Linked DNA regions of Homo sapiens: all the other regions are linked to region 2. Evidence: fine-mapped expression QTL. A gene starts in region 2. Each other region holds a variant in brackets. All regions are shown on one strand. Distances are from middle to middle. Region 1 holds the start of PPP2R5B (protein phosphatase 2 regulatory subunit B'beta). Region 2 holds the start of BATF2 (basic leucine zipper ATF-like transcription factor 2). Region 3 holds the start of CATSPERH (catsper channel auxiliary subunit eta).

The links. PIP is the estimated chance that this variant, and not a neighbour inherited with it, causes the effect.
Region 1: its variant is fine-mapped to the expression of BATF2 in whole blood (TOPMed, PIP above 0.99).
Region 3: its variant is fine-mapped to the expression of BATF2 in whole blood (INTERVAL, PIP 0.90).

What each region holds. Positions count from the first base shown.
Region 1 is chr11:64,923,686-64,931,858 of GRCh38, forward strand. It overlaps PPP2R5B (protein phosphatase 2 regulatory subunit B'beta), which reads left to right and starts at 1,004. Exons shown (of 14, transcript NM_006244.4): 1 at 1,004-1,343; 2 at 1,786-2,248; 3 at 3,027-3,223; 4 at 4,117-4,218; 5 at 4,381-4,473; 6 at 4,610-4,740; 7 at 6,637-6,696; 8 at 6,796-6,904; 9 at 7,751-7,804; 10 at 7,874-7,924; 11 at 8,064-8,173. The coding sequence starts at 2,050. RefSeq lists enhancers at 1-762, 383-452, 593-762, 3,711-4,910 and silencers at 873-1,092, 1,193-1,302. The variant G/A (reference allele first, on the strand shown) is at 3,607.
Region 2 is chr11:64,992,978-65,001,150 of GRCh38, forward strand. It overlaps BATF2 (basic leucine zipper ATF-like transcription factor 2), which reads right to left and starts at 3,994. Exons shown (of 3, transcript NM_138456.4): 1 at 3,899-3,994; 2 at 1,471-1,572. The coding sequence starts at 3,937. RefSeq lists an enhancer at 3,393-3,893 and a cis regulatory region at 5,138-6,276.
Region 3 is chr11:65,084,612-65,092,784 of GRCh38, forward strand. ZFPL1 (zinc finger protein like 1) reads left to right here. Exons shown (of 8, transcript NM_006782.4): 2 at 80-189; 3 at 504-615; 4 at 1,804-1,997; 5 at 2,109-2,181; 6 at 2,317-2,463; 7 at 2,705-2,822; 8 at 3,317-3,787. The coding sequence starts at 88. The coding sequence ends at 3,503. It overlaps CATSPERH (catsper channel auxiliary subunit eta), which reads right to left and starts at 4,499. Exons shown (of 3, transcript NM_001282448.2): 1 at 4,247-4,499; 2 at 4,040-4,139; 3 at 3,765-3,920. The coding sequence starts at 4,420. The coding sequence ends at 3,844. RefSeq lists an enhancer at 330-914 and a silencer at 5,285-5,457. The variant G/A (reference allele first, on the strand shown) is at 4,400.

The DNA of each region.
Region 1 (8,173 bases), 69 kb before region 2:
ACTCTGAAAAGGCCCCTAGTCCCCTCCCCGACCTCATTATCTGGTCTCATCACCCTTTCCTACTGCTCACCATGGACCAGCTGCTCATCCAGGCAACATTTCAGGGTGGAGATTTCACAGCAGTGTAGCGGGATGGAGTTCAGGGCTATAAAGAGTGTTGGGGTCCAGGATCCTAGGACGGGGGCCCAGGACTGCAGGCTGGGAACTTTTGGTTAGCATGCCAAACTCCTGGACTCCCACCTGTGCCTTGCATGCCAGCAGCAGGATTTTGAGCAAGAGACACTGACCCACCCAGCACATCTTAGGGTCCAGGGGGGCTGAAAGGTCCATCCGGGAAGGCCAGGCTGCCTGGGATGAGGTGGCAGCTCAAGGAGAAAACCTCCTCCTCTCGGGCTTTGCCACTCCAAGACTGGCCCTTTAAACTGGAGACCATGATGTCACCATAGACAGCAAGGGACGGGAGGGGGACTGCAGGCCTGAGGATGGACTGCATCTCCCAGCAGGCTTGGGTGCACCACACCCCTCCCAGCAAGCACTGACTCATCGCAGACTTTTAACTAGTCCAGTGCTGGTTTCCAAGGGGTTTCTGAAGTGTCTGGTGGTTCTGGGGTAAGGGTGAGGTTCCTGGGGGGATGGCCTAGGGCATAGAAGGCCCAGGCCAAATCTGTGGGCCTAGCGTAGCTTGCTGCGACTCCTTCCTGTCAGTGTCCTGGCATCACCCTACTTTCCTGGTGCAAACTCCTAAGCCCTCCTCTTTCCCTATGCAGCCTCCCTTCTAGAATCCAGGCTTCCCGCCCCCGGCTAGAGCCCATCCCACTCTGCTCTCTGGCTTCAAAAGCTTCGGCCTTCACCCCCGAGTCTGCCCTCAGGGGTGTCCCCTTTGGTCTGGCAGCTCACTTTAAACGGCGCGGGGACTACATCTCCCAGCGGCCCCGGGCCTTCCTGACGCAGCCCCCCCTTTCAGCCCGCGGGGAGGTGCGGGCCGGGTGGGGGGAGGTGACTTGATGTCATCCTGAGCAGCTGGGCGGCGGGTGCCGGTGCGCACGGAGCCGAGCCGGGGCTCCCGTTGCGCTGCACCGCGTTGGGTCGGAGTCCCAGGACTTCAGCGGAGATCCGCGCGCTGCGACGGCCGGTGCAGAGCCCGCCGAGCGCCCAGTCCCGGCCCGGGGCTGAGTTGGGGGCATGCTCTAGCCGCCCCCCCGGAGCCCGGGAGAGAACCCAGGAGCGCCGCCGCCCAGCCCCAGCGCCCCGAGCGGAACCGCTGCGAAGGGGCCCTGAACGGCCGTCGCCCTCCCTACGGGCAGCCCCCGGGGGTTGGCGACCGAAGTCTAGGTTTTCGAGAAGTGAGTGTCCCCCACCCCATGAGGTTTGGGGGGCCAGGAAGGAGGAGCTGAGGTGGGGGAGGGTGCCAGGTTCTAGGAGCGGGGTGGCATCGGGACAGCACCTCCAGTCTTGGGGTTGTCCCAAGTGGCCGGGATTAGTGGAGCAGCGATGCGTTCCATTCTGAAAGGGGCAGGGATGACGATCGGGGCTCCATTCTGAGTCGGGGCTGGCTTGGGGGATAGGCCCTATTCTGGGAGGGGTTGTTTTGGAGGCTTTCTGTCTGAGAGAAGGGAGGGACATGTCCAGGATGGGAGGGGGCTGCACCCCTATTTTAGGGTCTGGGCAAGGATAGGAGGGAAAAGACCTGGGCACTCCACGCAGCCTCCCGGCTCTCCTGAGGAACTGATGGGCTTTCTCTGTCTCTTTCTTGCTGATCTTTCTGCCTGACTTCGTTTTCAAAAGAGCCAGGGTGGGAACCCTAACTGGACTCTTCGGGACCCCCAGGAAGGATCTGAGGCCTGAGCCATCCTCCTTTCTACCCTGTCTGCCCCCCAGGACTGGGCAGTTGCAGGAGGCCCTGGGGGGGGGCCCAGGACTGTGGTTGTGCCCCCCCCCCAAAGGCCGGACAGGATGGGACCAAGTTAGTCTGTCCAGTCTCACCCAGCACCTCCCAGGCCCAGAGAGAACCCCCGGGGCTCTGAAAGCTTGCCCTGCCGCCTGACCGCCATGGAGACGAAGCTGCCCCCTGCAAGCACCCCCACTAGCCCCTCCTCCCCCGGGCTGTCGCCTGTGCCCCCACCCGACAAGGTGGACGGCTTCTCCCGCCGTTCCCTCCGCAGAGCCCGGCCCCGCCGCTCCCACAGCTCCTCTCAGTTCCGCTATCAGAGCAACCAGCAAGAGCTCACACCGCTGCCCCTGCTCAAAGGTGAGCTGGCTGCTGGCCACTGGGGGAACCGAACCCCCGAGGGGACCAGCAGGGCCATGGGGAGGGGTGGGAGGCAGCGGGCAGCTGCCAAGAGAGAGAGTTTGGATACCCCTCCAGGCTAGGTTCTCCGCCATCAGAACTGACCCCAGCCCTCCAGCCCTCTCTGCTGACACATGGCCTGACTGGCCTGTCATCCTTAGAGGTGGGACATCCGAAGGTGGTGCCACCCTAGGGGCAGACCAAGGCCAAGGGTGGGGCCCATAGCCTGGGTTCCAGGGGGCCACTATCAGCCCAGCCAGCTGCCAGATCCCTGGAGCAGGCGCTTGGCAGGGTTCCCTGGGATCACCACATAGGTCCCTTCCCCAGCCTTGGGCCATAGGGCCAGACTGGCCAAGCCTGAGGACACCGTAGAGATCCTTGGCCCTGAACCCCTCCCCATTTCTGGCCCTTAGAACAGGGTGCCACCTGAGAGGGAGGCAGCAGCTGTTTGGGGCACCTGTGGAAAGCTGCTGCATCCAGGATTTGTGATCTTGCTTTAAAACTCAGGCCATCATACTCTCTGAGCCTGGATTAGGAGGAAGAAAAGCAACCCTCAACCCCCAGGAATGGAGGAAGGGACAGTAGTTGTTTGCTGTCTGCAAGGAGCAGGAGATGGCACAAGAGCATGGGGCCTGGGGGCAGCAGAGGCAGCCGTGGAGATTAGGAGGGTCTGCCCCACCCACAGCTGGGGCAGCTGGGGGAGCTGGGGCCCAGGCCCAGGATGCCCTCTCCTCCCCAGATGTGCCGGCTTCCGAGCTGCACGAGCTGCTGAGCCGGAAGCTGGCCCAGTGTGGGGTGATGTTTGACTTCTTGGACTGTGTGGCCGACCTCAAGGGGAAGGAGGTGAAGCGGGCAGCCCTCAACGAGCTGGTGGAGTGTGTGGGGAGCACCCGGGGTGTCCTCATCGAGCCCGTCTACCCAGACATCATCCGCATGGTGAGCACCTGCCACCCAGGCTCCGAGGGCCGGCCGAGAGGGCGTGTGAGCCCCGTTTCCTGTCCGCAGGACCCCTGCGTGGAGAATAACCCTGTACTCATCGGCTTGGCCTCAGTCCACGTCTTCCTTCCCCCCGACCTGCTGCTGCCCAACACCCACTGAATGCCTCCGGGCCTGCCCCACGTCCACACCTTTGCTTATGCTTGCCTGAGACCTGGAGTGCCCTGCCCCACACCCCATACCATCCATGGCCTGGCTCAGGTGCCGCCTCTGCCAAGAAGCCGCTGTCAATAACCAAGCTGGAAATCTCCCTTTTCCTGCCCGTAGACCTCACAGCTTCTAGCCTTGTTCTCCCCACTGGATTGCACCTGCCTAGAAGGCAG[G/A]GATGTGTCCCATTCACCCCTGGGTTCCCAGCCCCTGGCCCAGGGCTTGCACGAACTAGGCGTTCAGGTGATGATTGCCCAAGGAATGAACTGCTTGCTGGGGCAGATGCTGAAATCAACCCATTAGAACTTTGAATGAGGGCCGGGAGCAGCAGCTCTCATCTGTAATCCCAGCACTTTGGGCCAAGGCGAGAGGATCACTTGAGGCAAGGGGTTCAAGACCAGCCTGACAGTGAGACCGCATCACTACAAAAATTTAAAAATTTGCCGGGCATAGTGGTGTGCTACTGTAGTCCAGCTACTCAGAAGGCTGAGGTGGGAGGATCGCTTGAGCCTGCCTGGGAGGTTGAGGTTGCAGTGAGTCGAGATTGTACCACTGCGCTCCAGCTTGGGCAACAGAGCGAGACCCTGTCTTGGGAAAGAAAAAAAAAAAAAAAGCTTTGAATGAGAGACTCCCTGGCTTCTGTCTTCAAGGGCTTTTCCTTAATGAACCCCAACTCTGCCACTCAGATCTCAGTGAATATCTTCCGGACTCTGCCGCCCAGTGAGAACCCTGAATTTGACCCTGAAGAGGATGAGCCCAATCTTGAGCCTTCGTGGCCACACCTGCAGGTCTGAAGGGTTGGGGAAGACAGAGATCCAAGTTTCAGAAGAGATCCAAGGCATGGGGAGAGGGCCTCCTTAGCCCCTAGACAGTTGGATGAGGGCCATAGGGTGGAATGAGTGGGTGAGGCTGTTACTGAACTCACCTTTTTGTCTGTCCCCCTCCCCCAGCTGGTATATGAGTTTTTCCTGCGTTTCTTGGAGAGCCCAGACTTCCAGCCCTCCGTGGCCAAGAGATATGTGGATCAAAAGTTTGTCCTGATGGTGAAGTGGGGAGCCCAGGCTGGGTGGTACCACAAGGCAGGGGCAGGCTCTCTGAGGGGCCAGGGATAGGATGGAAGCAACCTGGGGTGGACCTTTCCCCTGACCCTGACCCTGACCCTGACTCTGGTTCCCACAGCTCCTGGAGCTATTTGATAGTGAGGATCCCCGGGAGCGTGAGTACCTCAAGACCATCCTGCACCGGGTCTATGGCAAGTTCCTGGGTCTCCGGGCCTACATCCGCAAACAGTGCAACCACATCTTCCTCCGGTGAGTGGCTGCTGCCTGCCCAGCAGAGACCTGGGGAGGGTGAGAGGGCTGTTAGAAGACTGCGGCAAAGGCCATGTGCGGTGGCTCACACCTGTAATCCCAGCACTTTGGGAGGCCGAGGTGGGTGGATCACCTAAGGTGAGGAGTTTGAGACCAACCTGGCCAACATGGTGAAACCCCGTCTCTAATAAAAATACAAACATTAGCCAGGCATGGTGGTGGGCACCTGTAATTCCAGCTACTTGGGACGCTGAGACAAGAATTACTTGAACCCAGGTGAAACCCCGTCTCTACTAAAAATACAAAAAATTAGCCGGGCGCGGTGGCGGGCGCCTGTAGTCCCAGCTACTCGGGAGGCTGAGGCAGGAGAATGGCGTGAACCCGGGAAGCGGAGCTTGCAGTGAGCCGAGACTGCGCCACTGCAGTCCGCAGTCCGGCCTGGGCGACAGAGCGAGACGGATGAACCCAGGAGGTGGAGTTTACAGTGAGCCGAGATCATGCCACTGCACTCCAGCCTGGGCAACGGGGAGACTGTGTCTCAAAAAAAAAAAGAAAAGAAAACAAAAAAAAAGAAGACTGCAGCAAAGGCTCCTGGGCTGCAGGGGCCCTTGTAGAACTTCTGTTTTCCAAGCCCTTTCTCAGTAACGTATTACATATTGATTATACAAAGCCTGTGAAGTTGACAGAGAATGGGTATTTATTTCCATTTTACAGATGAGAAAGTAGAGGCCAAGAGAGATGAAATGGTTTGCAGGGACTGGGTCAGTCCAGGGGCCTAGGAGCTAAATCATTTGACCCTTATCATGCCAGGCCATAAGGACCCAGAGAGAGATTCTTTCTGCAAACATGCACTGAGCACCAGCACCCACTGGGCATCAAGGCTCACGTGGCCTTGTAGTTGAGACCATGGCTCTGAAGCTGTATGGCCTACATTTGAGTTTGGTTCCAACGTTTGGGTGAACTTTGGCAAATTACTTAAGCTCTCTCCTAGTTTGCTCGTCTTTAAAATGGGAATGCTGGCTGGGTGCAGTGGCTCATGCCTGTAATCCCAGCACTTTGGGAGTTGGAGGTGGGCAGATCACTTGAGATCAGGAGTTCAAGATCAGCCTGGCCAACGTGGTGAAACTCCGTCTCTACTAAAAATACAAAAATTAGCTGAGTGTGGTGGTAAACACCTGCAATCCCAGCTACTCAGGAGGCTGAGGCAGGAGAATCGCTTGAGCCTGGGAGGTGGAGGTTGCAGTGAGCCAAGATTGCGCCACTGCACTCCTGCCTGGGCGACAGAGCGAGATTCCATCTCAAAGATAAGATAAAAATGGGGATGCTGCTTGTACTAACTCAGGGACCATTATCGAGGTGACATGGGGCCTTGCCTGCAAAGCACTCAGCATAGCTCCTGGACTGAGGCCGGGACTCTGAAACATTAGTTGTTATTAGCTACAAAATGGGTGAGCCATGATCCCTGTCCTCCTGCACCTTGGAGTTCATTAGATTCCCTGCCTATTAACATTGGGGTTGTTTTATTTAACCGCTGAGTCTTGATTTCTTCATCCATGTGATGGATTTCTTAAGCCCCATCTCCCTGGATAATTCTGAGACTTACATGGTACGGAGTAGATGTGCTAAGTGTTTGTCATTCTCTTGGTTGACTGGCAAGAGAGCCTTGAGCTTGGGACTCAGTGGCAGAGGTGGCTGGGCTGAGAAGGGCATTTCAGTGTGGGGGGGCGGGGATCTCAATGGGGCCTGGTTTGGGATGTTGGGAAGGGAGCGCAGCCTCTGGGTTGGGGGAGAGTTGGATGAGCGTGCCGTGCAGGTGAGGGTGGGCAGGCAGGATGCCTAAGGGGGCACTGGGCCTACCCTGCTTGCTTTGAGCCCACCTGCGTTCTTCTCTTGCAGGTTCATCTATGAATTCGAGCACTTCAATGGTGTGGCTGAGCTGCTGGAGATCCTAGGAAGGTGATTCTCCCTGGGCCTCAGCTGGAGCTCAGGATTCTGGAAGGAGGGACTGGGGCCAGGTCACCTGAGCCCTCTTCCTCTCTTCTGCCTCCTCCTCAGCATCATCAATGGCTTTGCGCTGCCCCTGAAGACGGAGCACAAGCAGTTCCTGGTTCGCGTCCTGATCCCCCTGCACTCTGTCAAGTCGCTGTCTGTCTTCCATGCCCAGGTGAGGCCCAGGCCTGTCCCTGCTGCAGCAGGAGCTCCAGACAGTCAGGGCAGCCAGTGGGTCCTGGAGGTCAGATCCTCCAGGGATCCTATCTCACCTTCTTTGTCTTTATAATTCTGTTCCATCTACCTTAGAAAATTCCCACTGGCGCTTTAAGGCTAACCTCAGATATCAGCTCTGTGAAGCCAGGCTTTTCTTCTCTACCCTCCCTTGGCAGAATTACATTCTTCTCCATCTATATTCCCAAATATTTGGATACACAAATCTATTATGGGAGATTTTGATACACAATTTTTTTTTTTGAGACAAAACCGTACTCTGTTGCCTCAGCTGGAGAGCAGTGGTATGAACATGGCTCACTGAAGCCTCTACCTGCTGGGCTCAAGCAGTCCTCCCTTCTCAGCCTCCCGAGTAGCTGGGACCACAGATGTATGTGCCACATGCCTGGCTAATTAAAAAAAATTTTTTTTTTGTAGAGACAGTGTCTTGCTATGTTACCTAGGCTGGTCTCAAACTCCCAGGCTCAAGTGATTCTGCTGCCTCGGCCTCCCAAAGTGCTTGGATTACAGGCGTGAGCCACCACACTAGCCATATTATGGAACCTTTTGCAAAATTTATAAAGATGAGTTTGTTGACTGTCCCCACTCCCCGCGAGATCAGAGTTGTATTCCCAGCACACTGAATGTGATGCCTGGTACATCCTAGGCAGGTGATAAATGCTTGGTGAATAAGAAAGTAACAGGCCGTGGGTGAGCAGTATTTGGCATTCTGTCCTGGACAGCAAGTCCTTGGCGCCTGGTGCCTTCCTGACCTGTCTTCCTTCCCTCCACCTGTCACCCCCTGCAGCTGGCATACTGTGTGGTGCAGTTCCTGGAGAAGGATGCCACTCTGACAGAGCACGTGAGTACCTCTGGGGGCTAAGGCAGCCTCTCACCTCTGCAGGCGTGACTCCTGTCTCATCTCCCACAGGTGATCCGGGGGCTGCTCAAATACTGGCCAAAAACCTGCACCCAGAAGGAGGTATGAAGAAGGGCTTTGATGCCCGCCAGAGGGAGGCTGGGAGGGCTCGGCCTCTAGAAGGCAGTCAGGTGTGTGTATGTGTAGGGGGAGATGTGAGCTGCTGCCCCTCTGTCCCTACTCCCCTCCCCAACCCACCCAGGTGATGTTTCTGGGGGAGATGGAAGAGATTCTTGATGTCATCGAGCCCTCCCAGTTTGTGAAGATCCAGGAGCCCCTTTTTAAGCAGGTGGCTCGCTGTGTTTCCAGCCC
Region 2 (8,173 bases):
GCAAGACCCCCATCACTATTAAAAAATAAAGAATATGAAGAAATAAAAAAGAAAGAATAAATAAATAATAAATGAATAAAAAATTAAAACAAAAGGAGGGGGCCAGGTGCAGTGGTTCACGCCTGTAATCCCAGCACTTTGGGAGGCTGAGGCGGGCAGATCACTTAAAGCCAGGAGTTTGAGACCAGCCTGGCCAACATGGTGAAACCCCGTCTCTGCTAAAAATACAAAAATTAGGTGGGCGTAGTGGCGCATGCCTGTAATCCTAGCTACTCAGGAGGCTGAGGCAGGAGGATCACTTGAACCCAGGAGGTAGAGGTTGTAGTGAGCCAAGTGGCGCCACTGCACTCCAGTCTGGGCAACAGAGTGAGACTCTGTCTCAAAAATGACAACAACAACAAAAATCCCAAAAAGGAGAGGAAGGGAAAGAGATCACTCTGTCCTCTCACATGCACTGAGAGGCCATGAGCACACAGCGAGAAGGCAGCCACTTACAAGTCAGGAAGAGCACCCTCATCTGGAACTGAATTGGCTGGCACCTTGATCTTGGACTTCCCAGCCTCCAAAACTGTGAGAAATAAATGTCTATTGTTTAAGCCACTGTTTATGGTATTTTCAGATGAGCATGAAGCTCAGTAAAGGAAGCAACTTGCAACTGGGACTGGAAACCCTGCCCATTTTAACCCTGAACCAGAGTTCTCACAGTATGGTCTTGGTCACCTCCTGAATTCTGACCCCCAGGTGATTAATCACAAATCACCGTGCAGGTCCCTGGGCCCACCTGGCCTCATGAGGTGGGACCTGGCAGAGGAAGAATAATCCACTTTTTTTTTTCTATAGACAGGGTCTCAATCTGTTGCCCAGGTTGGATGCAGTGGTACAATCATGGCTCACTGCAGCCTTGAACTTCTGGGCTCAAGCGATCCTCCTGCCTCAGTTTCCTGAGTAGCTGGGACTACAGGTGTGCACCATCACGCCCAGCTAACTATTTTTTAATTTTTGTAGAGACAGAGTCTCACTATATTGCCCAGGCTGGTCTTGAACTCCTGGGCTCAAACAATCCTCCAGCCTCAGCCTCCCAAAGTGCTAGGATTACAGGTGTGAGCCACAGTGCCCAGCCTGGAATCTGCATTTTAACCAGTGTCTCAGCTGGCCATTGTGTTGGGGTCTCCCTATTTGCCTCCACTTCCTGTCTTCCTTCCCCTAGACTGCGGACACCTTAGGACACGGCTGGGCTGAGGATGACCCTTTGTGTCCCTGGAGCCTGGTGTGTACCTGGCACATGGTTTGTACTCAACACCCAGAACTTTCCAAATGTCAGCCACAGGATCCTTTTCTCATCCCAAACTCAGGTGACCTAGAAAAATACAGGAGTTTGGGGGAGGTCTGCTCAAAGGTGGGATGGAGAAGAGGTGGCTGGGCCAGTAAGTGGAGCCAGAGACAAGGAAAGGGGTTAGGGGTTGTCCACACCTGGTGCAGGGCGTCTGCCTTGTCTGTGTGCTTCTGCCGGCTTCGCTGGGCGGCTGCCCGGTTCTTCTGCTTCTTCAGCTGCCTTTGTTGCTCCTTGGGGTCCTGTGGGGCATGAGGCAGAGGACTCAGGGGGCCCAGCCAGGCCTTGTGCCCTCCGTCCTGGCCCGCCATTTGTAAAGCCAAGTCTTTCCCCTTGAGTCAAGTTCCCAAGGGTCTTTTATCTCCCAGAAGCTCCCTTGGCACCCACACCCCCTATAGCAGGCACTGCACACCTTGTTGGAACGCCAGCCTCACCCCTGTGTCCTGCTCACCGCTCATGTGGAGGGTGGGAGGGCAAGCAGGGAAGATGGGAAGCCTGAGATTCAAACTCAGACAGAGCCAACTTCAAACCCCACATTCTTTTTTCCTTTTTTTTTGAGACAGAGTCTCACTCTGTTGCCCAGGCTGGAGTAGTGCAGCGGCTCTATCTTGGCTCACTGCAAACTCTGACTCCCGGGTTCAAGCAATTCTCCTGCCTCGGCCTCCCAAGTAGCTGGGACTACAGGCACCTGCCACCATTCCTGGCCAATTTTTGTATTTTTAGTAGAGATGGGGTTTCCTCATGTTGGCCAGGCTCATCTCAAACTGGTCTTGAACTCCTGACCTCAGGTGATTCACCAGCCTCGGCCTCCCAAAGTGCTGGGATTACAGGTGTGAGCCACCGTGCCCAGCCGAGCCCCATATTCTTGAACCCAATCGCCCCATCCCTGCAATGGAAGCACCACAGCAGAGGGTTAAAGCCCATGCGGCAGGCAGCCCAGAGCCGGCGTGCCATAAAGCTCAGCTTCCATTCTTCTCATTGCCATGATTTCCACACCAAGGTGTGAACTTTCCTAACTGTGAGCTCCATGAGGGCAGATGTGGTTCTCTGTGCTCATGCCCAGCTCAAGCCCAAAGCAGATATTCACTTACTCAACAAACATGTATAAGCACCTACTATGTTCCAGGCAGTAAGCTAGAGGGACATGATAGCAAACAAAATACACACAAATCCCTGCCCTGAAATTGCTCACATTGTAGTGGGGTGGTAGCGAAGGATGAATGAATGAAGGGTTTATTCCGGTGGAAGAGTGGACTCAAAGGTTGTGACCACCTTGTACCCTGGGATCAATGAAACTTAGATAAAATATTTTACCCAAATGTCCAGAGCTCTGCAAAGTCAGAGCAAGAGGGACTGTTGGAGAGCTCACAGCCCAGCCCCCGCCCCCAAGTCTCTCTGGGGTATGTGTTTTGAGGGTAAGGACCTCAGGCAAGGCCCTGGCCGCCCTGGCTGCAGATTCTGAATGCTCCTAGGCTCCTGCTCCATATGCTCCCTTGGGCCATGTCCACAGCGGGCTCACTGTAGACACTGGGGCACCAAGAAACTAAAGGCTGAGACAGGACCCACGGTGAGTGAAGGGGGCTCCTGTGAGATAAGCAGAGCCTCCAAGGGAAACCATGGCCCAGGGAATTTATTTATTATTTTACTTTATTTTATTTTATTTTATTTTATTGAGACAGAGTCTCTGTCGCCCAGGCTGGAGTGCAGTGGCGTGATCTTGGCTCACTGCGACCTCCGCCTCCCAGGTTCAAGTGATTCTCCTGCCTCAGCCTCCTGAGAAGCTGGGATTACAGGCATGTGCCTCCACCACGCCCAGCTAATTTTTCTATTTTTAATAGAGACGGGGTTTCACCATGTTGGCCAGGATGGTCTCGATCTCCTGACCTCAGGTGATCTGCCCGCCTCAGCCTCCCAAAGTGCTGGGATTACAGGTGTGAGCCACTGAGCCCGGCCTATTTTATTTTATTGAGACAGAGTCTCTCTCTGTCACCCAGGCTGGAGTGCAGTGACATGAGCTCAGCTTACTGCAACCTCCATCTCCCGGGTTCAAGCAACTTTCCTGCCTCAGCCTCTCGAGTAGCTGAGACTACAGACGTGCCCTGCCACACCTGGCTAATTTTTGTATTTCTAGTAGAGACGGGGTTTCGCCATGTTGGCCAGGCTGATCTTGAACTCCTAACCTCATGTTATCTGCCGGCCTCAGACTCCCAAGGGGCTGGGATTACAGGCATGAGCCGGCCTGGGTTATTTGGAGAAGGAAGGAAAGGCTGCTGTGAGTGTAGTGAGGGGGGACCAGGTACGTTAGGAGAGAGCAAGTACACAGAGGCCAAGTTCTAAACCGAAGGCTGGATCTGCAATGTGAGAGCTGGAAACAACTCATTCCAATCCAATCCCGACTTCGGGGGAGGAAAGTGAGACCCAGAGAGGGGCATGCAGAGCCCTCTGTCACACTGCTCAGAGTATAGAGCTGGGACTAGGAGCTCCCGACTGCAGCCCTCACTGCCTGGGCACTGAGGACGGGATCCCAGCTCCCCTTCTCATCCCCGATCCCCAATCCCCTGTACTCACTGTCTGGGTCAGCAGCCCATTGCCCCCACAGAGGTGCATGGCTTAGGCGGGGGAGCAGAGTGGTCCCTCAGCAGCTGTGACTTCCCAGTGCCCTCTGGAGGCCTAAGGAAGTGGCAGCTCTTTAAATCCCCAGTGGCCACTCCGCCCCCAGAGGGCCAAGTTTCAGTTTCTCCTAAAGCCACCAGCTGCTCAGAATCCCTGGCTCAGGCTTGCTCACGTGGCTAGAATTTCCTAACATGAACTGGCCTTCCGGTTGGGCCCCTTCTCTGGAAAGAGGATGGTGGAGGGTGGAGAGGAGGGAAGACCAAAGGCCAGGTATGAGGAGGGTGTTCTAGGGGAGGGAGGACAGGCGGCCAGGGACTGAGATGAGAGAAGAAGCCAGTGGGGACCGATGCTCATGTGGGGTAGAGAGAGCCCTTGAGCTCTGGAATTGGGGGAACTCTGGATCACAGCACACATTGGAGCTGTCCAACTTTCAGAAAGTGACTCTCCTTCTCTGAGCCCTAGTTTTCTCATCTGGAGGATGGTACAACTACCCACTCCCAGGCTCATTGCAGGAACTAAGCCAGATAATACAACCACCCCCAAACCTTCTGAGACCACTATGGAAGCATGTCTGCAAAATTAAGCAATGGCTGTTGGATAGAACAGATGGATACATTACTGTTTTCATACAACAGACCATGAAGCAGTGGAAAGATTGATGTCCAGTGGTTAGGAGCCCAGCTTCCAAGCTATGTGACTTGGGTTCGTAATTTCATCTGTGTTTCTGTTTCCAAATCTGTAAAGTGGGGATAAAAACAATTTTGTTAGGCCAGATGCAGTGGTTCATGCCTGTAATCCAAGTACTCTGGGAGGCCAAGGCAGGAGGATTACTTGAGCTCAGGAGTTTGAGACCAGCCTGGGCAACATAGCAAGACCTTATCTATATTAAAAATAAAAAAAATAACTGGGCATGGTGGCACACACCTGTATTCCCAGTTACTCAGGAGGCTGAGATGAGAGGATCACTTGAGCCCAGGAGTTCAAGGCTGCAGTGAGCTATAATCTTGCCACTGCACTCCAGCCTGGGCAATAGAGCAAGACCTTGTTTCAAAAAAATTAATTAATTAAAAATTAAAAAATAAAGACCTAGCAAACCCTGAAGCCCCGGGCATACCTGCATGCTTGTTGTATCTCTAAGAGGGACACTTGGATGGGGCATCTGTTTGGGGGCCAGAGGGGCCAGTAATTCCTGTCCAAGAACAGCATGCATGCAGTATGTAGAGTCCTATGGTCTGGTGACTAGAGCATCTTGGAGTTGTACCTGAGACCTGAGGGCTCATGGCTGATGATGTGGTATCACAAGAATGGCAAATACAGATATGATCTTCTGATAGGTGATGGTGGCTGGAATGTTGTTTTAAAGAGTTCATGGACACCTCTGAGCTTAGTAAAAAAGAGTACTGCAGTTGATTAGCAATGTCTGCCACACCATGATCGATTAGTGATGCCTGTTATGGGCAGAGGTGTGGAGAGTGCAGTCCCCTGCTATCCCTAGAACCAGGCATAAAACAAGTCTGGGTTTCAGAGACAAAAGACTTGACTCTCCATCCTGGCACTCCACTCACCCAGTTTATCACCTGGAGCCTCAGTGTCTTCAAAGATATGCTGGTGATCACAAAGAAATGATACCTATTTGACAGTTGTTTTGAAGATGGGAAAGAATGAGATGAGAAGAAAGCTCTTGGGATATTGTAAAGTACTATGTGGCAAGGATTCCCCCTCCTGAAATTTGTGGTGTCATATTCTGGATTCTAAGATTATTAATGCAGGCTCCTAATTTAAAATGCCTGGGTGGGTGAGATTGGGCATAAGAGCTGGGCCTTGCCCTCCTAGCTTCTGAGGGGCCTGGGAGCAGAGGCGGAAGTGGGATGCCCCACGCAGTGAGGCCATCCCTGTTTCTCTGAATTATTGTTTCCTGGAAACCAGGAAGGCTGGGGCGTCTTGCCTGAGGCAGGCACCTGAAGGGCTCATTAAGCCAGCCCATGAGCTCCCCTGGGAGGATCTGCAGGCACCTTGTGCATGATGTGACTACGAAGAAACACCCGTGTGTGCTTGTGTGTGTGTGTGTGTGTGTGGAGGGGCTAGGCCTGAGTGTCCCACTCCAGATCCCAGCCCCTGCCCCAGACCCCCAGTCTTTCTTCTCCAGACCCTGGCTTCTGGCAGAGGTGAGACAGCAGGTGTAGCTCTTCCCAGAACACCACAGCCCTGGGAGAAGACCAAAGAAGGCAGCGTTTATGGCTCCCTGAGGAGGCAGCTGGGAGAGGGAGTGGCAGGGAGGGAGGGAGGTAGGGTGGGTAATGTTTAACTAGGAATGGCTGTGGGAGACTTCTCCCAGGCTGGTGGGACCATCCAATCTGACCTCGCCTTAGACGGTGTCTCAGTCAGCTCAGGCTGCTATAATGCAATACCAGAAACTGAGTGGCTTAATGACAGCCTTTTATTTCTCGCAGTTCTGAGGGCTGAGAAATCCAAGAGCAAGGTGCTGGTAGGTTTGGCTCCTGGCAAGGCCTCTTCCTGGCTGGAAGATGGTGGCACTCTTGCCGTATTCTCACACGGTCTCTCTGCCTTCTTATAAAGACACTCATCCCATTGTAGGGTCCCACCCTCACAACCTTATCTAAGCCTAATTACCTCCTGAAGGCCCCACCTCCAAATACCATCTTACCAAGGGTTGGCACTTCAGTGTGTGAGTTTGGGGGGGGAACACAAACTTTCAGTTCATAAAAGAGGGTGAGGAAACTAATGCCCAGAGGGGCAAGGTCACTCCACGGGAGGGGCAGAGCTGCAGGGAGAACACAACCTCTCTCTTCTAGGCCTCAGTCCTGCTCCACACTCTGCTTGGAAAGGCCTGGTCCATTAGTCCAGAGCCAGCAGCCCCAGTGGGTGGAGGGTTGGAGGCCTCCCAAATACCACAGCTACCAATGAGCTCCTACATGGCAGGACTGGTTCTTTGAAGGATCCCCAGTGCTTCAAACACTGCCTTCACGTAATAGATGCTCAATTAATGAATTAATTAATTAAAGTCCAGCAGGCAGCTTGCCACCCAGGAACCCCAAAACTTTCCTGAGGAAAGAAACTTTTCACTCATTCCCATAGGACCTGCCCTGGGTTCCTGGTGGGCTCCCCCCAACCAACTTCATCATTTCACCAATGAATAAACTGAATTATAGGGAAGAGAAAGTCACACCACTGTTTTGGGAGAAGCCAGAATGCCCTGAAGCCCTGTCCCTTTTTTTTTTTTTTTTTGAGACGGAGTCCCACTCTGTCACCCAGGCTAGAGTACAGTGGCACAATCTTGGCTCACTGCAACCTCTGTCTCCAGGGTTCCAGTGATTCACCTGCCTCAGCCTCCCAAGTAGCTGGAATTACAGGTGTACGCCACCACACCCACCTAATTTTTTGTATTTTTAGTAGAGATGGGGTTTCACCATGTTGGCCAGGCTGATCTCGAACTCCTGACCTCAAGTGATCTGCCAGCCTCAGCCTCCCAAAGTGCTGGGATTACAGGCGTGAGCCATTGCACGCGGCCTGTTTTTTGTTTTTTGTTTTGAGACAGAGTCTTGCTCTGTCTCCCAGGCTGGAGTGCGGTGGTGCGATCTCGGCTCACTGCAACCTCCGCCTCCCAGGTTCAAGTGATTCTCCTGCCTCAGCCTCCCAAGTAGCTGGGATTACAGGTGTGTGCCACCATGCCCAGCTAATTTTTGCATTTTTAGTAGAGACGGGGTTTCACCATGTTGGCCTGGCTGGTCTCAACCTTAGGTGATCCGCCAGCCTTGGCCTCCCAAAGTGCTGGGATTATAGGCGTGAGCCACCGTGCCTGGCCAATGGGGATAATAATAGAAGGATTTAAGTAATTTATGTAAAGGGCTTAGAACAGTGCACAGCCCACAGTTAAGTCACATAAACATCTGTTAAACTTAACAAAGGCACTCAATACATATCTGATTAATTTTTATTCACGTAACAACAGGCTTGTGTTTCCCTCCCTCCCTCCCTCCTTTCTCTCTCTCTCTCTCTTTCTTTCTTTCTTTCTTTCTTTCTTTCTTTCTTTCGATGGAGTCTTGCTCTGTACCCAGGCTAAAGTGCAGTGGTGGGATCTCAGCTCACTGCAATCTCTGCCTCCTGGGTTCAAGCGATTCTCCTGGCTCAGCCTCCTAAGTAGCTGGGACTATAGGCAGGCACCACCACACCCAGCAAAATTTTTGTATTTTTAGCAGAGACGGGGTTTCT
Region 3 (8,173 bases), 92 kb after region 2:
AGAGTGGAAACTGGGCTGGTGAGAGCGTAGTGGTGGCCACCAGAACCTGACTTCCTACCAACTCATGCCCCTTTCCCAGGATCGATCATGGGGCTTTGTAAGTGCCCCAAGAGAAAGGTGACCAACCTGTTCTGCTTCGAACATCGGGTCAACGTCTGCGAGCACTGCCTGGTAGCCAATCACGCCAAGGTGGGGCCTTCAGGGGAGCGACTGAGCAGGGCACTGGGTGGGCAAGGCGGTATTGGCTTCCTCCAAATCCATGAGGGGCCCCGCGCTAGAATGTAAGCCCCACAAGGGCAAGGACTTGATTTATTTTGTTCACTGATATATCCCCCGTTCCCAAGAGAGAGTCTGGTGCACAGTATGTGCTCAATAAATATTTATTGATTAAACAAACGAAAGGATGAGTCTCCTCTGTGGCTAGAGAAAAAGAGACAGTCGGACCTTGGGGTGATAGGCCGAGCAGCCCCAGCACCAGTTGTGACATCTCTCTCCCACTCCAGTGCATCGTCCAGTCCTACCTGCAATGGCTCCAAGATAGCGACTACAACCCCAATTGCCGCCTGTGCAACATACCCCTGGCCAGCCGAGAGACGACCCGCCTTGTCTGCTATGGTGAGGCCTTGGCACCTCGGGGGGATCAGGCCAGCCTCAGGGGCCAGCTTGGTGACTGGTTTCCAGGCCCTCCTCAAGCAGCAGGACAGTGAGTCCCCCGAGTCTCAGAGCCCAGATTCTAGTCCTGTTAAAGTTCCTTACCTGCTGTGTAAGTTCAGGCAAGTTATTCTTCCTTTCTAGGCCTCACTGTCTTTCCTAAAAATTAAAGCTCCTAGTTCCTCTTTCCTAAAAATTAAGCCCTGCCAATCTGGAGGTTTCAGCGAGAACCAGTCAAGCTTACGGGTATGCTGGTGGCCGTGACTATTAGCTAGCCAGACCGGCATGTTGCTTTCAGATATTCAGGATCCACCACTGATTCCAAGGCTAAACAGAGAGGAAGTGAGTTTCCCACATTAAAGTTAGCTAAAAGAAGTCAGCAGACATATGTGTCATGACTTTGACCTGAATCTGGGGTAAGAGCCTTAGCTCCAGTTTTTGAAGGAGCTCATGCAAGAGTCAGCTCCATATGTGTTTCTCCTTGTGAGTGCATGTGTGTACTTGCAGGCACTTAATGTACATTGTGTGTTTAAATGAGTGTTAGTGTGTTGATCTGTACTTGGGGTGAATGAATGGGTAAATGTATGTATGTGAACATATGAACACAGGTGTGTTGTGGGAGTGCAAGAGAATGCATGGTTGAGGGTGCCTGTTAGCAAACCTGTGAGTGTATAGATGTGTATGTGTGAGGGCTCCTGTACCCATAGTGTAGATATAGGGAATGCCACTTGTGTTTGATTATGTGCTTATAAGGACATGTACATTTGTGCCCAGGGATGTGTACATGTATATGTGTGCCTGTGTGTGTATCGAGGAACCTTTTCTGAAACTGTTCATTATTAGCCATTAGCCCAAAGAATATGATGAGTGCAGGCCCAGAGAGGACTCATTGAAAGGACTGAAAGGGGAGGTGGCGTTTTCTTCCTACCCAAACTTACCCCTGTGAGCTGGACAGCTTGGTAGCACCTGCCTGGACTTAGATGGTGGTAGCCAAGAAGACTGACATTTTAGGGAACAGGACGGGGAGGAGAAGGCTCTGGCACACACACATGTGTCCATATGTCCTGCAATGGTCTGGGGACTATTGCTAGGCTAGGAGCCCTAAGTGTCTTCTTCCTCATGTCTCTTCTCCCCTGTCTCATGGGCCCTAAGATCTCTTTCACTGGGCCTGCCTCAATGAACGTGCTGCCCAGCTACCCCGAAACACGGCACCTGCCGGCTATCAGTGCCCCAGCTGCAATGGCCCCATCTTCCCCCCAACCAACCTGGCTGGCCCCGTGGCCTCCGCACTGAGAGAGAAGCTGGCCACAGTCAACTGGGCCCGGGCAGGACTGGGCCTCCCTCTGGTGAGAGTCCCTCGTCTGTCTGACCATCTATCTGCCCTGGGCCCCACCTGAGTCAGATGGGTGGGTGGGGACAATACTAGGCAGCCTGGTGACCCAGATTCCTTCCTCCAGATCGATGAGGTGGTGAGCCCAGAGCCCGAGCCCCTCAACACGTCTGACTTCTCTGACTGGTCTAGTTTTAATGGTAAGTGGTGGCTTCCACCGACTGTTTGGGCTTTAGCCTCCCTGCTCTGCTGACAGCTCCCTTGGTCTGCAGTCACATGCTCTACCCCTGAGCTCTATGCACTGCTTCTGCTGACGGCTCTCTTTCCACCCACAGCCAGCAGTACCCCTGGACCAGAGGAGGTAGACAGCGCCTCTGCTGCCCCAGCCTTCTACAGCCAGGCCCCCCGGCCCCCAGCTTCCCCAGGCCGGCCCGAGCAGCACACAGTGATCCACATGGGCAATCCTGAGCCCTTGACTCACGGTGAGCCTGGGAGTTATCCAGGCCGCAGAAGGATAGGAAGAGGGTGGAATGGTTTGTATAGGGGGAGCTTGAGGATCCAGAGACCCACCCGGAGGAACCTTTCCTTAATCCAGGCACAGCCATTACCTCCTCACAATTCTGAGATGTTCTGTCAGACTGAGGAGAGCAGGTGATCCCCCTAGCCCTCCCCAAAGCGGCCAGTTTTCCTGAGTCTATTGATGCTAGTGGCTCCACCCTGTAGCCCCTAGGAAGGTGTATGATACGCGGGATGATGACCGGACACCAGGCCTCCATGGAGACTGTGACGATGACAAGTACCGACGTCGGCCGGCCTTGGGTTGGCTGGCCCGGCTGCTAAGGTACACAGGGTCAGGCAGGGCGGAATGCCAGGAAGGGGTGGAGAGGGAATGGGAGCCAGAGGTCCTGGAAGGGATGGTTTCATGACAAAAGGGGCTTGTTCTGGGGAGTAACAGTACCTGGTGCTGGGGCTGTGCAGAGAGGCCTTGGCTGTGCAGCAGAAGCTGTGTTTTGCTTCTCTCTGGGACTGTCTCTATGCCTCCTACACAGGAGGTTTGAACTCAGGCTCTTTGAGGCCCCTTCCCGATCTGACACCCCCTAATCTTTGTAATTCTCCCCGACGTCTGACACACTGTGGTTTCCAGAATACAGTCGTGCGCCTCAGCTGGTTTGAGCTGCACAATAACGCCCTATGGTGGCAGGTGCAGGAGTGATCATCCCTGAGGCACAGACGAGGAGATGGAGGCTCAGGAATGGGTGGTGACCAGGGCTTCTCTCCAGCCGCGGGGGCCACCAGGGACTGGGGCCTGACCTGATTTTCCCCTCATCCCCCCAGGAGCCGGGCTGGGTCTCGGAAGCGGCCGCTGACCCTGCTCCAGCGGGCGGGGCTGCTGCTACTCTTGGGACTGCTGGGCTTCCTGGCCCTCCTTGCCCTCATGTCTCGCCTAGGCCGGGCCGCAGCTGACAGCGATCCCAACCTGGACCCACTCATGAACCCTCACATCCGCGTGGGCCCCTCCTGAGCCCCCTTGCTTGTGGCTAGGCCAGCCTAGGATGTGGGTTCTGTGGAGGAGAGGCGGGGTAATGGGGAGGCTGAGGGCACCTCTTCACTGCCCCTCTCCCTCAAGCCTAAGACACTAAGACCCCAGACCCAAAGCCAAGTCCACCAGAGTGGCTGCAGGCCAGGCCTGGAGTCCCCGTGGGTCAAGCATTTGTCTTGACTTGCTTTCCTCCCGGGTCTCCAGCCTCCGACCCCTCGCCCCATGAAGGAGCTGGCAGGTGGAAATAAACAACAACTTTATTAAAACACCCGAGGCAGCCTTTTGCTTCCCCCTCCTTAGCCCTGTTCCGACTCCCCAGGCCTCAGTGGTGCTCCTCCCGGTACTCGATGGCCAGAAACTCCAAGGACAGGCGGTTGAAGAACATGGCTCCGTTGAGCACTGGGCGGGGGACAGAGCCCCCCATGAGCCCCAGTACCCTTCCCTGGCTACTCCTTGCCACATCTCAGGGTTCCAAAGCTCCCCGCTCCCTCTTGCACCCTCCCACTCCTGCCACTCACTCAGGATGGTCAGGGCGGAGAAGCAGACGTACTTGTTTTCTGTCATCTCAGCATAGAGTGACCCCATGGCAGCCCAGCAGATGCTGATCACCTGGGAGAACTGTAGGCCCATCCAGTGGGAGAGTGGCCCCCTCGCACAACAGTGGGGTTTCCATCAGCCCCTCGGGTCTCCCACAGCCAGCCCTTGCGTCCCTGCCCTGAGCCTACCATCAGGACGACCGTGTAGTGAAAGCTCATGTGGTCATAGTGGTAGGTGATGCAGAAGTTGTGCACGTCTCTGATGAAGATGCCCAGGTGTAAGAAGAAGAGCATCAGCGCAGCCGTGGTGAGCATCATGCCTTTTGGGAAGAAGAACGTGGC[G/A]ATGCGGTCTTGCAGCCACATCTTGCCCGCAGTGTAGATGCAAGTCAGACTTGAGAGCTGGAGCAAGCAGGCCCTGCCCAGGAAAAGCAGCAGAGTCTCTGGTTCTAAAGTGCCTGGTATGGAATAGCAGTGGGATTCTAGAACCAGGAGGACAGTGGAGGGGACAAGATTCTAGAACACAGGCTGATTCCAGCCAACACAGGAGTGCCTCACGGGTGGTAGGGGTGCTTTGAATTGTGAGATCAGTGGGGGCCCATGGCAATGGCGAAGGGGCAGCAGCCCTAGTTATCCCATACTCACTCTAGACGCTTTTATGCATGTCTCAAGTTTCCCAAAACGGAGGCAGTGTGAACACAGTCTACAGATGAAGAACTGGGGCTCAGAAAAGTTGAGGGGCGTGGTCTAGATTTACAGCAAGTCTTAGGCAGATGAGAGATGAGGACCCAGCTGCATAGCTGGAAGGCATTCCCAGGTGAGGGGAGGCCTGTATTTGCTCTACCCTCTGGTGGAGAGGAATTACGAGAAGGGAAGGATCAACAGATTCTTCAGAGCTGTCCCGGGACCTTCCCCGTGCCCTTCCCAGGTGTGGCCCAGAAGGCACCTGGCTTTTCCATTCTCTCCCAAGATGTTCTTACAGGACCTGATGCTGGTCAGCTTTCTGCTCCGCCACCTTCAGGTGCTTGGAGCATTTTCACCTCTGTCAGTCTAAGAGTCCCATGAGACAGCTGGGGCTGGTGGCATAAGTCCTATTTGACACTTGAGTCTGAGGCAGAGGGAGGATGGTCTTCCTCAAGCTGTTATAGCCAGTGAGGGAGAGAGTCAATACTGAAACGAAGATCCGATACTACCTGAGGCTGTGCTGAGTGAGCAGGGTCACATGCAAGCCAGGAGGAAGAAATCTCCTCCATGCATGTGAGAGATGAGAACTAGGCTGGGTGCGGTAGCTCACACCTGCAACCCCAGCACTTTCAGAGGCCCAGGTGGGAGGACTGTCTTGGGCCAGGAGTTCAAGACCAGCTTGGGAGACAGCAAGACCCCATCTCTCTCTTTTTTGAGATGTAGTTTCACTCTTGTTGCCCAGGCTGGAGTGCGATGGCGCGATCTCGGCTCACCGCAACCTCCGCCTCCTGGATTCAAGCGATTCTCCTACCTCAGCCTCCCAAGTAGGATTACAGGCATGTGCCACCACGCACAGCTAATTTTGTATTTTTAGTAGAGACAGGGTTTCTCCATGTTGGTCAGGCTGGTCTTGAACTCCCAACCTCAGGTGATCCGCCTGCCTTGGCCTCCCAAAGTGCTGGGATTACAGGTGTGAGCCACCGCTCCTGGCCAGCAAGACCCCATCTCTAAAAAAAAAAAAAAAAAAATTTGCTGAGTGTGGTGGTGTGTGCCTTTAGTCCCAGCTACTCAGGAGGCTGAGATGGGAGGATTGCTGGACCCCAGGAGTCCCAGGCTGCAGTGAACTATGATCATGCCACTGTACTCCAAGCTGGGTGACAGAGAAAAAAAGAAAAGAAAAGAAAAAGGTGAGAACTCCAGGGCCGTCAACAAAATATGCCAATAAAACAGCCAGAAATGGTGTGGAGTGACATGAAAGCTCCCAGGGATTGAAGCAGGAGAAGAGGAGGGAGGAGGAGAGGACTTGATTTCGAACTCAGCCACCCCACTGCCTCCTGCCCAACTGTTTGCCCCAAAAGTTAGGTCCCAGGTCAGCCCAAGACCCACAGGCTGCCTCCCAGCAGTGGGATTAGAGCCTGCACCCACCATCTGTGCTTGCTGCCCAGTCTCCAGACAAGCACAATAGTTCTTCAGAGCCCCATCCTAACCACATGAAAGGGGTAATGCCCCAAGGCCCAGCTGTGGTCCCACTGTTGAAACAATTGTTTGGACCTCAGTCCTCATTTGAATACAAATGAACTTTTATACATTAAAGTTCCTAGCTCCTAATTTTATTTTATTTTTGAGACAGAGTCTCACTCTATCGCGCAGACTGGAGTGCAGTGGCATGATCTCGGCCCACTGCAACCTCCGCCTCCCGGGTTCAAGTGATTCTCATGCCTCAGTCTCCCAAGTAGCCAGGATTACAGGCGCCTGCCACCATACCCAGCTAATTTTTGTATTTTCAGTAGACATGGTATTTCACTATGTTGGCCAGGCTGCTCTTGAACTCCTGACCTCAGGTGATCCACTCTCTTTGGCCTCCCAAAGTACTGGGATTAGAGGTGTGAGCCACTGTGCCTACCCCTAGCTCCTAATTTTTAAAAATTATATACATGTAATATATGAATATGGGCTGGGTGCGGTGGCTCACACCTGTAATCCCAGCACTTTGGGAGGCTGAGGCAGGCAAATGACCTGAGGACGGGAGTTTGAGACCAGTCTGAACAACATGGAGAAACCCTGTCTCTACTAAAAATATAAAATTAAGCTGGGCGCAGTGGCTCACGCTTGTAATCCCAGCACTTTGGGAGGCTGAGGCGGGCGGATCACGAGGTTGGGAGTTCAAGACCAGCCTGACCAACATGGTGAAACCCCGTCTCTACTAAAATACAAAAATTAGCTGGGTATGGTGGTGCATGCCTGTAATCCCAGCTACTTGGGAGGCTGAGGCAGGAGAATCACTTGAACCCAGGAGGCAGAGGTTACACTGAGCCAAGATCGAGCCACTGCACTCCAGCCTGGGCGACAGACCAAGACTGTGTCTCAAAAAAAAACAAGAACAAAAACAAAATTAGCCGGGCATGGAGGCGCATGCCTGTAATCCCAGCTACTCGGGAGGCTGAGGCAGGAGAATCGCTTGAACCTAGGAGGTGGAGGTTGCGGTGAGCCGAGATTGTGCCATTGCACTGCAGCCTGGGCAACAAGATCAAAACTCCATCTCAAGAAAAAAAAAAAAAAAAAAATATATATATATATATATACACACACATATATGTATGTATGTATATATGAATATGTTCTTGTAAAATATTTGCATAATACACAAGCATGCAGAGGAAAATGTAACAGTCTCCCTGCTGCATCCCCACCACTGAAGTACCCCCTTCCCCAGTTTGGTGACTTGGCATCTTTTAGGTCCCTTCTTTATGTAACGGTAACTTCATACATCTAGATGTACATATACATGCATAAGTTTAAAGCATTTTTAAAAATCATATGTTTTGTCAAAGTGTACTTTTCAAAAAGTTAAAACCTACGTCTAAATATAGAATGAACACGTAACAAAGATTTATTAGGCCGGGTGCGGTGGCTCATGCCTGTAATCCCAGCACTTTGGGAGGCTGAGCTCCCAAAGTGAGCCTGAGAGGATCACTTGAGCTCAGGAGTTTGAGACCAGCCTGGGCAACATAGTGAAACCTCCTCACTACTAAAAATTAAAAAAAAATAAAATTAGCTGGTTGTGGTGGCCCTTGCCTGTAGTACCCCCTACTTGGGAGGCTGAGGCGGGAGGGTCATTTGAGCCCAGGAATTCGAGCCCTGCTTGCATCTTTGCAGTCCGGCCTGGGGGCATAGTGAGACCTTGTCTCAAAAAAAAAAAAAAAAAAAAAAAGATCTTTAACTCATCAGTGAGGGGATTTCCGCTTGGTAAGGTGGTAATGCACATGAGGAACTGGACAGGACGAGCATTTAAAGAGGAACGTTAGGCCAGGTGCAGTGGCTCATGCCTGTAATCCTAGCACTTTGGGAGGCCGAGGTGGGCGGATCACCTGAGGTCAGGAGTTCGAGACCAGCCTGGCTAACATAGTGAAACCCTGTCTCTACTAAAAATACAAA